Linked DNA regions of Homo sapiens. The protein of the gene in region 1 interacts with the protein of each later gene in a biochemical or structural test. Each region holds a gene or a part of one and is shown in the gene's direction. Other genes may lie near its edges.

Evidence for each region.
Region 2: the proteins of EPB41L2 (region 1) and NUMA1 form a complex in vitro, tested with the Homo sapiens proteins (one study listed by BioGRID).

What each region holds. Positions count from the first base shown.
Region 1 is NC_000006.12:130,838,621-130,843,304, reverse strand, and holds the end of EPB41L2 (band 4.1-like protein 2), read left to right. Parts: intron 1-2,706; 3' UTR 2,707-3,958; downstream 3,959-4,684. UniProt on the Homo sapiens protein: Required for dynein-dynactin complex and NUMA1 recruitment at the mitotic cell cortex during anaphase.
Region 2 is NC_000011.10:72,007,258-72,014,542, reverse strand, and holds part of NUMA1 (nuclear mitotic apparatus protein 1), read left to right. Parts: coding exon 1-1,648; intron 1,649-2,100; coding exon 2,101-2,142; intron 2,143-3,688; coding exon 3,689-3,757; intron 3,758-5,155; coding exon 5,156-5,275; intron 5,276-5,357; coding exon 5,358-5,576; intron 5,577-5,697; coding exon 5,698-5,855; intron 5,856-6,342; exon of another isoform or gene 6,343-6,397; coding exon of another isoform or gene 6,398-6,451; exon of another isoform or gene 6,452-7,107; coding exon 7,108-7,285. UniProt on the Homo sapiens protein: Microtubule (MT)-binding protein that plays a role in the formation and maintenance of the spindle poles and the alignement and the segregation of chromosomes during mitotic cell division.

The sequences.
Region 1 (4,684 bases):
TTAAGTTTATTTCTCACAGACACCTGCCAGAGGACAGAAAAGTACAGTATTTCTGATGCTTATGTAGCAGTGACATTGGTGATTCTGTCTTTATCTTTTCTCTTTTCTAGCTCAAAAGCTAACTGTTTAGTACTTAGGAACGTATTTCTACATGTGTTTAAGTGCAAGAAACAGTCAAAAAAGATAAGTGGATATGTAAATAAAGTCTTCGTACAATAAGTTACTTCTTGTTCATCCACGCCAATAAGGAACTGGGATGTTTTGACACAATATCTAATAACTCAGAGTTAAACTTGATTTACTGATTTTTAAAGAATGAGAAAATAAATAAGTTTTAACATTAAAATGGCAATAAAATGATTCTGAAAGCTGTTTGGAATCCTAAGAGCACATGAAGGTTATCATTTATAATATTCATTACCAGAAAAAAAGTTTATTAATGGAAATAAATTACATTTTGAGTTTATTTGGGTAACTATGTCTTTTTCTCTATATTTAGCTCAGTAAATGTTGAAGTTTTTTGAGATCAAGATCCCTTCAATTCCAACATATGCTTAGTTTCCTGTAATAACTTTGAAACAAGTTTAATTTTAGCTTTTCTTTACAAATTTATGACTCATTACAAAGTGAAATTTTTATTTTTGATGAAAACAGATGCAAAGCAATAAAGTGACATAGGGCCTAGAGAAAATGGAGACTAGAATCCTAAACATTGTTCTCTCTGTAGGTTTTCAGGCCCTGATAGCATCAGGGGTTTGTTTTTTTAATAACATAAACTAGGCAAAATGGCAGCTGTGTTCAACAAATGATGCATATTTACTAAACAAAGCAAATGGAAATACCAGCTCTGAAGGAACAAGAACAGGTTCCATGACTGAAGGTGTCATATAACTGCCAAATCCAATTTGATTGGTAATTGTATCCATTTCCCTTCATCATCCCCCACATTTCTTTTCATAATTACTAACCTAAAAAAAGACTTTCTATTTTCTCCATTGATTTTTTTTTCCCCCAGCCTAGAATCAAACAGAAGTACTAATGAGTAATGAAATAACCTAAGGCAGACAACAGGGTAGAAAACAATGAAGTTGATTAATCAATCTGTCCTGAATAATCAAGAGGCTTTAATATTATCTGTGATAAATCTAAATGGTAGGAACTTTTTTCATTAAAGCAAGACTTAATTTTACCTAACCAAAAGAGTGTACATTCTAATTGACTTTGGGAGCAGTGTCTCTTGGAAAAGACGTTAATTACCACTCTGCACTGTCCTTTGTGATTACCTATCATTTGCCAAAACTTCCAACCAAGTTCAAATATAAAATGAAACAATTGCCACCTTAAAACCCTTTTCTCTTTCAGGGCCATTGCACCATCATGGGTTTTTTAAAAAGTCTTCTCCACTTACCTTTGATTGTGGACTTCTGCAAGACTCTGTGGCTTTCATTTATTCCTATGCTCACATGAGACTTAGTTCTATCTGTTGGTTTCACTTATCCCTTGTTCTGATGCCCAAATCTATATCCCTAGGTCTAATGCTTCACCCAGGCTGTAAGCCTTCATTCTCTCCTTTTTTTGAGGTCCCAGACTCCAAACCTTATCATCCTGTCTTATACTTACTTCTTAACCACCACACTCTGATTATTCTCCTTAGTGGTGCCTCTCAAATTTCTCTCCCACCTGATTTCTGTGGTGACCACTCAAGTCTGGGTCCTGGCCATCTGGCAGGAATGCCTGACATTTGTCATCTTCCTCATCCAGCTGGACTCCTGCACTGGTCTCCTGACTGTTGTTCCTGCCTCTACTCCTTGCCGGCTTCAGCTTATTCATCACACTGAAGCCACAGCAGTGTTTTCAAAACGTAAATCACACCATGACAAACCCTTCCTCAAAACCAAAGAAGAAACGATCCCAACCTCCTTTCCTGGGCTTATCATGCCCTGCATGACTGGCCAACCCCAAGTTCTTTGACCAGTCTTCTATCTCTCTGTGGCTCTTGCACTCTGCCCTGGACCATTGTAGTAGATTGCCAACTGGTCTTTTCGTCCAAATGTTTTTTCTTAATTCATTTTTTTTTTTTTTTGGTCAATTAGATCAAGCTGGTACTTCTCAGTCTATTAAAGAATAGACCTAATATTTTGTACCTTTATTTACTACTCACTATACCAATGCTCAACTTTAGTAATGTCCCTTTCTTCACCGTCCTATTCCTTCCATTCGTTTCTGCCTCCTCCCCCAACATACATCTTACTGTCATAATACTGTGTACTTCTTCACCTCCATGCCTCTTTCCTCATTGTGTTTTTCCACCTGAAGCACCATTTCCATTCGTTTTAGCACAAAGAAAATAGACTTTGACTTTCCCTTTCCCTGAGTATAGCTTTAAAACCTACCTTGGTTTCTGTCTTTAAATTCTTACATATGAATTGTCTCTGTTTTATGCTAATAAATTCTTTTGCAGTGAACTCTTATTTGCCAGTTGCTTCTAGCGTACTTGTCAATTCTCCAGGTATTTTAAGGCCCTCGAGAGTGGAATAGTGTCTCATGCTTGTCTTCTGGTAAACATACTATTTAATGTAAGACTAGGCAGACAGTAACTGTTGATTACTTGATTGAAAACTTGATGAATGTTACTTAACATTTTTTTCAAGCCTGTGTTTTTGGAATATTTAAGCCTTCTGTTTTTTTTTTTTTTTTCTCTTCTAGAAAGTCATTTTTTAAACAACACTCAACTTTGTGAACCCCTGAAGATTTTTTGACCGTTCCAAGTCTTAATGCCACACCACTATTCCAGCGAATTTATGCTACAACTGGTAACAATGACCAGAAGCCTGAAGAATTAAAATGCCAACACCAAACCTTTCCTTACCAGCTCTGGTCTATATTGCTCCCATGCATTTAATATATTATTTTGTTTTATAACCACTTCTAAATATTCTCAGTTCTTTCTTTTTGTTGTTGTTAATTAAGGGGTTTTGGTTTTGTTTTCTGTTTACTTTGTGTGCAACTACCTGCTTTTAATGACTCACTTTGATCAAATGACAGTGAACAAAGCCAGCCCAAGCTGGTAAGGTGCTGTTCACTTGAACAGGTGCTGTTGCGCAGAAAGGAAACTCTGTGACTAATTTAGATAGTGGCTTTCCTTCTTCTGGATTCTTTTCATTGAATTCTCACAGTAAATATTTACGGAGTTTTCAAATTGCAGCAAATATACTGTATGAGAAAATATTAATACAGATTAAAAGCCTTTCTTACATCTTGAAAATTTTCTAATATTTGAGAATTTCACAGGGATGTTTTTTATATTGGACCCTTTTGACTTTCCAGTCCTGTGACTTTCTACTTTTAGTAGAGAGTCAGAATCTCTGGACTGGAGAATAATGAAGAAGTTCACTGACTGTGCACTGTGCTTAGAGACCCTGCCGCACCACAGTGCCAATGCTTGTCAGACACATGCCCTTCGGCAGCATTCCAGAACAGGAGGGAAGAGAAAGAGAAAACTTTCTTCCCTTCTACTAAAAGATTCAGGCAGCTTAAAACCTTAGTGCTTTCTTTCTTAACATACCCACATTTCAATTCTTTCCATTATTTGAACACTTGGGTAGAACTCTTGCTTTGTATTAAACCTCTTTGTCTACACATGTAAAACTTACCTTTTGTTATTGAGCAGGCCTATCTCTTTCAGATAGTTTTATGATTCACACAGGTTTGAGGATGCTGGGGAGAGGGGGAGGGGGCTGTGGTGGTGTTCTGTTGGTTACAAGAAAGTTATACCATTTAAAGCTGGCACCAGAGACCCGATAGGGACTTATTAACTATATTGAACATTTTTTCCTTTGCCTTTGACCCTATGTATAGTTACGATGCCAGATTAGATTTATAGCAGCCTCAAGTTGTATTAAATGATATTTTGCTTCCTGTAATACTATTATAAAATAAAGTTTGTTTATTCTCTAAACTTGTCACTTCTCTTTTTCTAAAGGGTTAAAAAAACAAACTTGAGTGATATTTTTCATCAGAAGTCTTAGTATTTTGTGAAAAGTAGCATTTCAAAATCTGTTTTCAGCTCTTCTGTAATTTGATGATGCTGCCAACATCACTATTTGAAACGGTGAAAGCGACGTTGAAAGTTTGTAAATCTAATGTTGAGAGTGCCAGATTCCTTCTGCCTGGTTACATAATCCATTCCAGCTTTTACGAATTCTCCGAGGGATATTTTTGCTTGTTTTCTTTGTGCATTTTTCATTTTGTTTTCAGGAAATATTTTAGCTGTACCATCTGAATCTTGCTCCTCTGCTTCATGTCCTTCTTTACTTTGTGTCCACTGGCCCTCTGTATATCAGGCAAACTAGGCCACTGAGGGGCTGCATCCCAGTCTGATTGGGATGCTTTCTTGTGAAACTTTTGTTGGGGCACACCAGGTTATGGTGTTATTATAGAGCAAATAACCAACAGGGTACATTTCTTGTAAAGTGTTATATAGAATTTTTTTCTCTAGTCATTTAAAGTAAGTACATTAAATACAATTTGCATAACTGTCGTCTTTGAGATCTGTTTCCACTAAATTATCTCTCGCCTTGTGAAAGGCCTTTCTCACTTTCTCTATAATTATTACAAAAACAACAACTCCCTGGAGAATCCGATTCAGCAAGCCAAGCCTTAGAAATATTGTGGAACCAAATGT
Region 2 (7,285 bases), on another chromosome or scaffold:
GCTGATGGAGAGCCAGGGGCAGCAGCAGGAGGAGCGTGGGCAGCAGGAAAGGGAGGTGGCGCGGCTGACCCAGGAGCGGGGCCGTGCCCAGGCTGACCTTGCCCTGGAGAAGGCGGCCAGAGCAGAGCTTGAGATGCGGCTGCAGAACGCCCTCAACGAGCAGCGTGTGGAGTTCGCTACCCTGCAAGAGGCACTGGCTCATGCCCTGACGGAAAAGGAAGGCAAGGACCAGGAGTTGGCCAAGCTTCGTGGTCTGGAGGCAGCCCAGATAAAAGAGCTGGAGGAACTTCGGCAAACCGTGAAGCAACTGAAGGAACAGCTGGCTAAGAAAGAAAAGGAGCACGCATCTGGCTCAGGAGCCCAATCTGAGGCTGCTGGCAGGACAGAGCCAACAGGCCCCAAGCTGGAGGCACTGCGGGCAGAGGTGAGCAAGCTGGAACAGCAATGCCAGAAGCAGCAGGAGCAGGCTGACAGCCTGGAACGCAGCCTCGAGGCTGAGCGGGCCTCCCGGGCTGAGCGGGACAGTGCTCTGGAGACTCTGCAGGGCCAGTTAGAGGAGAAGGCCCAGGAGCTAGGGCACAGTCAGAGTGCCTTAGCCTCGGCCCAACGGGAGTTGGCTGCCTTCCGCACCAAGGTACAAGACCACAGCAAGGCTGAAGATGAGTGGAAGGCCCAGGTGGCCCGGGGCCGGCAAGAGGCTGAGAGGAAAAATAGCCTCATCAGCAGCTTGGAGGAGGAGGTGTCCATCCTGAATCGCCAGGTCCTGGAGAAGGAGGGGGAGAGCAAGGAGTTGAAGCGGCTGGTGATGGCCGAGTCAGAGAAGAGCCAGAAGCTGGAGGAGAGGCTGCGCCTGCTGCAGGCAGAGACAGCCAGCAACAGTGCCAGAGCTGCAGAACGCAGCTCTGCTCTGCGGGAGGAGGTGCAGAGCCTCCGGGAGGAGGCTGAGAAACAGCGGGTGGCTTCAGAGAACCTGCGGCAGGAGCTGACCTCACAGGCTGAGCGTGCGGAGGAGCTGGGCCAAGAATTGAAGGCGTGGCAGGAGAAGTTCTTCCAGAAAGAGCAGGCCCTCTCCACCCTGCAGCTCGAGCACACCAGCACACAGGCCCTGGTGAGTGAGCTGCTGCCAGCTAAGCACCTCTGCCAGCAGCTGCAGGCCGAGCAGGCCGCTGCCGAGAAACGCCACCGTGAGGAGCTGGAGCAGAGCAAGCAGGCCGCTGGGGGACTGCGGGCAGAGCTGCTGCGGGCCCAGCGGGAGCTTGGGGAGCTGATTCCTCTGCGGCAGAAGGTGGCAGAGCAGGAGCGAACAGCTCAGCAGCTGCGGGCAGAGAAGGCCAGCTATGCAGAGCAGCTGAGCATGCTGAAGAAGGCGCATGGCCTGCTGGCAGAGGAGAACCGGGGGCTGGGTGAGCGGGCCAACCTTGGCCGGCAGTTTCTGGAAGTGGAGTTGGACCAGGCCCGGGAGAAGTATGTCCAAGAGTTGGCAGCCGTACGTGCTGATGCTGAGACCCGTCTGGCTGAGGTGCAGCGAGAAGCACAGAGCACTGCCCGGGAGCTGGAGGTGATGACTGCCAAGTATGAGGGTGCCAAGGTCAAGGTCCTGGAGGAGAGGCAGCGGTTCCAGGAAGAGAGGCAGAAACTCACTGCCCAGGTAAGGTACTCAGCCCAACCACCCTCCCAAAGATCAGGAGCTGAGAGCGCGGGGACATCGATCCTCTGTGTCCAGGGCCTCTAGCTCCTACACTGGAGTGTCTTGCCTTTCCTCATTCACTGGGTGGCAGAAAAGGAGAGGTGGCTGGTGGAGTTCAAGTCTGTTGCCCCTGTCATCCTAAAGAAAATGTCAGTGGCCTCCCCTCCCCTGAAGGCTCTGTCACTAGAGAGTCAAGTTGTGATGACCACCAGCCTGTTCAGAGGCACACCTGCACTGGATGCCTCAGGAGCCACTGGGGATTAGAATCAGCCTAACTGGCATTTTTAAACTTACTGTCAATCTAGCTCCTTAGGGGAAAGTATCAGAGCCTCAGTGAGGTCAGCCTGGCAGCAGGGCTGGTGCTTCTTTGGCCTCATCTCACTCTGTCTCTGTTGCTCCTCCCCCATGTACAGGTGGAGCAGCTAGAGGTATTTCAGAGAGAGCAAACTAAGCAGGTAATGCCTGAGGTCCTCGCTAAATGCTGGCTGCTTAAACGGTGACCAGTCTTGGTGCATGAGCCCGGCTGCAGCTTGCCTCCGCCAGCTCCTGTTGTGAACTGTTTGTGAAGGGGGCAGGGTCAAGCCATGGAATCCAGGCCCAGGCTGCCCAGGAGTGTGGTGTGCTGGGCTCTCTCAGGCCTCATCCCACCCATCCCAGGTCGGCCTCTCCACCCTTCTGCACCTTCTCTCATTTGCCTATCAGGGACAAGGGGTAGCACTGGCTTCATCTTTCCCACCCTGAACCAATGACAGACACAATCCTTGGGATTCGAGAACTTCCCAAGTACTGTGTCTAGTTAAGGATACCCGACTAAGAGGAACAGCAGAATTACCGTGTCGGCCTTGTTTAACATGGTGTCCCTTTTTCCCAGAGTACAGCTTTATGGAAGCCTTGAAGGTGATATGCGAGGCAGCCCCCACAGGTTAGGGAGGATTGTGGGCTTAGGACACTTGCCCATCACTTTCTGGGGCTCTAACCCCGAGCACAGCATAGAGATGTCTGTAGCAGGAAGACCGAGGGTGAAGGAGCAGGAGGGGTCTATACCAGATGGGGGCGGGGGAGTGGGGGTCACATGGTCTGGCTGCCTCTTTCTCATGGGAATCATCTCTGTGTTGCCTGAGACATCGAGGCTATAGAGCTGGTGTTTCTGAGACATCGAGGCTATAGAGCACCCTTTCTCCATCACTCTCCTACCCAGCCACCCCAGGGCTGCTGAAAAATTGGGCCCTCCTCTAAGGAGCCTGTGATAGTGGGGGACAATCAAAGTGAATAGCAAACAGTTAGCAATGGAGCCCTTGCCTCTCCCCTGTGCTGCCTGGTCATGCTTGAACTCCCAGAATGCTTGGAGCAGCCAAGGGTGCATGGGGCTGTTATGTTCTCTCTTTTCCCCTACTCCCTGTGCTCTTCCTCTTTGTAGGAGTGGGGTGGGCTTTGGAGTACATGTGCTGCCCCTGCTCTTGTCTTCCAGCAATCTGTTCCCCAATGCTAACCACAGCAGCCATGCTGCTAGCACCAGCCCTAACGGCCTGTGGATGTTGGGAAGAGGTCTGAGCATCTGTGGGCTTGGGCTTTGGCAGTTTCTGGGAGGGAGGCATGGGAATTCATTGAGTATGTCTACTAGAATTACAGACTAGGTCCTGGGAAGGTTGCGGCTGCAGAGTGTGGCGGCAGCAAGGTGGTGGTGAGGTGTCGGCTCCCCAGAGTCAATTCTCCTGATTTTGGAGGTGACGGGGGTTGGGCAGGCCTCTGTCTCTGCAGGCTCAGGGTAGACGCAAGAACAGTTGGCCCTGGCAACATCTATGTGTTAGGTTGCCTCATTCAGGCCCTGCCAAGCAGCCTGGGCAGCAGGCTGTTCCGTAATTGGAGGCCAGAGAAAGGGCCTGAGTTTATTCTAGGAACACTGGGGATCCTGGTCTGGGAAACCCCATGATGGGTGGACATCCAGGATGAACATCCAGGGGAAGTCCTCCTGAGTCTTCTGTCCTCCTCTTCCCTCCCCAGGTGGAAGAACTGAGTAAGAAACTGGCTGACTCTGACCAAGCCAGCAAGGTGCAGCAGCAGAAGCTGAAGGTGGGGCAGCTGGGGGAATGGGTCTGGCCTCTGGACAAGGGAGGGAAGCTATTCTCTAAGCTCTGGGGCCGTGGGGGGTGTCGGGGCAGAAGAGGGGCACCCTGCATTCCAGGTAGCCCTCCTAGGAAGCCTGTGGCTTAGAAGCCCCTGCATGTGTCTTCTGGGAGCTCTCGAGAGACAACCAGGGTGGTTCCCATCTCTCAACTGTCACTGTCCACTTCAGCAGCTACTAGTCACGTGTGGTTATTGAAATTTATTAAAGTAAATCCAGTTCTTCAATCACACTAGCTACACTGTGCCCCTGTTCAGTAGCTACATGTGGTTAGTGGCTGCTGTATTGGACAGCGCAGATACAGAACATTCCACCATTGCATAAAGTTCTTTTGGACAATGTAAGTCTAGATAGTCTGGGCAGGGAAAGAACGAGAGTGTCACCAGTGTTGAATATTACAGTGCAGTTTAATAACATTCTTAATGCTTTCAACTGTGTCACCTTCTTTGGTTTAATACTTGCTTTTTGCAGTTCTAGGCTTCACAGCCTTCAGTCAGGGGCAAAGGAATTGGGCACCAGTGGCATTGGGACTCACTAAAGCCCTGGTGGCTCCTAGGAGTTGTTGGGAGCTCAGAGCTTCATTTCTCCTGCTCACCTTCATACCATGGTGCCACAGCATGTCTTGATTGCAATAAACAAATGTTTATTCTACTCCTTGTGGGGCCTGTCCTATGTTAGGAGAGGCAAAGGGGGGATGCTTCTATCTACAGCAAAGCACTTGTTGGCCTTGCAGATGGACAGAGAATCAGGCCCTGCTCTTAAGGAGTTATGGTCTGGACAGGAGGCAGTGTGGGCATCATAAATAAGCCCCCATGGGCTTTTGGAGTTAGGTGGACCAAATCTTACTCTGCCATTTAGTCACTGTTACTCTGGTCAATTTGCTTAAATCTCTGAACTCAGTTTCCTCCTCTGAAAAGAGGGTGAAGTGACTTCTCAGAGTGGCTTTGAGGAGAAACAAGTTCCCCTGTCCTAAGAGAGCTCACATGCCAAGTGCCTTAGAGTAAGGCTCTGCACCTGGGTGTTCCCTGAGGATTGGTTCCCTTCCTCCTACGGGAGATTGTGCATGCAAAGAGGGTGTGACACTTTGTGTCTGGTCTCAAAGAAGGCAAAGATAGGGCAGGAGCTGGTCAGGGAAAGGCCACTACGGATGTGGACTGAAGGGCATGTGGGCTTCAGGTTTAGTAGACTGTAGTCGGGCAGAGAGTATTTGGGGTGGTGTGGTTTTCTTCCGCTTCCTAAGAAAGTGCAGGAGTCTGAAGCACCTGTGGAGCCCCAGTGGCTGGTGCAGATAAGCGGACTTGGGTAGAGCGGCCAGACCAGCTTTCCTGAGTGGCCTTTCTTCTCAGGCTGTCCAGGCTCAGGGAGGCGAGAGCCAGCAGGAGGCCCAGCGCCTCCAGGCCCAGCTGAATGAACTGCAAGCCCAGTTGAGCCAGAAGGAGCAGGCAGCTGAGCACTATAAGCTGCAGGTAAGGAGCCCAGCCCCAGCCCATGCCACCTTCCTCCTGCCCTTCAACCTCTACCCCACCCACCCACCCTCTCTGCCCACAGATGGAGAAAGCCAAAACACATTATGATGCCAAGAAGCAGCAGAACCAAGAGCTGCAGGAGCAGCTGCGGAGCCTGGAGCAGCTGCAGAAGGAAAACAAAGAGCTGCGAGCTGAAGCTGAACGGCTGGGCCATGAGCTACAGCAGGCTGGGCTGAAGACCAAGGAGGCTGAACAGACCTGCCGCCACCTTACTGCCCAGGTGCGCAGCCTGGAGGCACAGGTAAGAATTTGGCTGGCAGACTCACCTCACTCCTATTCCACTGGACCCCTGTGCCCTCTCCTCCTAGGCCACTGCTGCCTTAGGCTTTTCTTCACTCTCCCCCTGGCCCTCTCCTTCTCAGGTTGCCCATGCAGACCAGCAGCTTCGAGACCTGGGCAAATTCCAGGTGGCAACTGATGCTTTAAAGAGCCGTGAGCCCCAGGCTAAGCCCCAGCTGGACTTGAGTATTGACAGCCTGGATCTGAGCTGCGAGGAGGGGACCCCACTCAGTATCACCAGGTCAGGAGGCAGCCTTCCTCCCTATGTCTGTTTATGGAGTGCCTGCTGTTTATCAGGCTGTATCCTAGTGAGATAAATAAGATGTGATCTAAATTTATTCTTAGAGAAGAATAACGAAAAACGGGTATTATACCAGATATCTATTTAGGGCACAGTTGGAATAAAAAGCAAGTGGTCAAGAAAGGCTTCGTGGAAGCTATCGCTCCTGCTGAGTCTTGAAAGCATCCATAGGTGTGTGTGCCAGGTTGACGAGAAGAGCAGTGTGAACAGAGGCTGTGAAAGAGCCTGACTAAGCTGAGATGTGAGGCCAGGAAGGCCCATTGGAGACCGACTATTAAGACTTGATCCTAAAGGCATTGAGGAAACCTTGGTGGCTGTAATTGAAAGGTTTAGGAGAAAAAAAAAGGAACCTTGGAAGAATTTGAAACTGAAGAGTACATGGTTAATTTGCATCTTAAAAAGATTATTCTAATAGCTAGTATAGAAGTTAAGACTGGAAAAATGTTTTTATTAAACACTTACATTTACTTATTTTGTGCTAGACATAAAGCACTCATGACAATTATACCTGATTTGTCCCCCAACAACCCTCTGAGGTAGGTTTATTCTGTCTCCTTTAACAGATGAATCTGGGGCATAGAGGGGCAGTCACTTGCCCAAGGTTCCCCAGTGGTAGAGCTGGGGTTTGACCCTGGGCAGCCTGGCCTGAGTTCTTGGCTTGTCACCACTCATCTTCCTCTGTCAGTGCCATGATGAGTCTAGGTGAGAGGAGATGAAGCAGACCAGGGAAAGGACATGAGCATGGAGTGGGGTGTGGTTAGGAGCTGTTCAGGAAGCTTGGTGATTGGGCTCGCCAAGCAGGACGACATTGGATTATGCCCACGTTCATGGCTTGGGGGCCTGAGTGGGGGGCGTTCCTATTCACTGAAATGGGAGATGCAGGAGGAAGAACAGAGAAGTGGGCTTAGATTGGGACGTGTTTGCTGTGAAGCAGCCATGGGCATCTGGTGGGGATGGGACATCTGGGTCTGGGCATTGCCACTATGAGGAGCTATTAGGAGAAGCCAGGGGAGTGGACTGAAAGGAAGGCCCAGGTCAAGTGCTTTCCTTGGTACCTCTGAAAAATCAGAGAGATGGGCTGCTTGACCTCATCTGCTTGTAGTAAGGATGGGAAATGGTCACTTTCAAAAAGGGCTGGACAAAATGCCTTCTAGCGTGAAGGACTGTACCTCAGCAGGTTTCCTTTCCATAGCAAGCTGCCTCGTACCCAGCCAGACGGCACCAGCGTCCCTGGAGAACCAGCCTCACCTATCTCCCAGCGCCTGCCCCCCAAGGTAGAATCCCTGGAGAGTCTCTACTTCACTCCCATCCCTGCTCGGAGTCAGGCCCCCCTGGAGAGCAGCCTGGACTCCCTGGGAGACGTCTTCCTG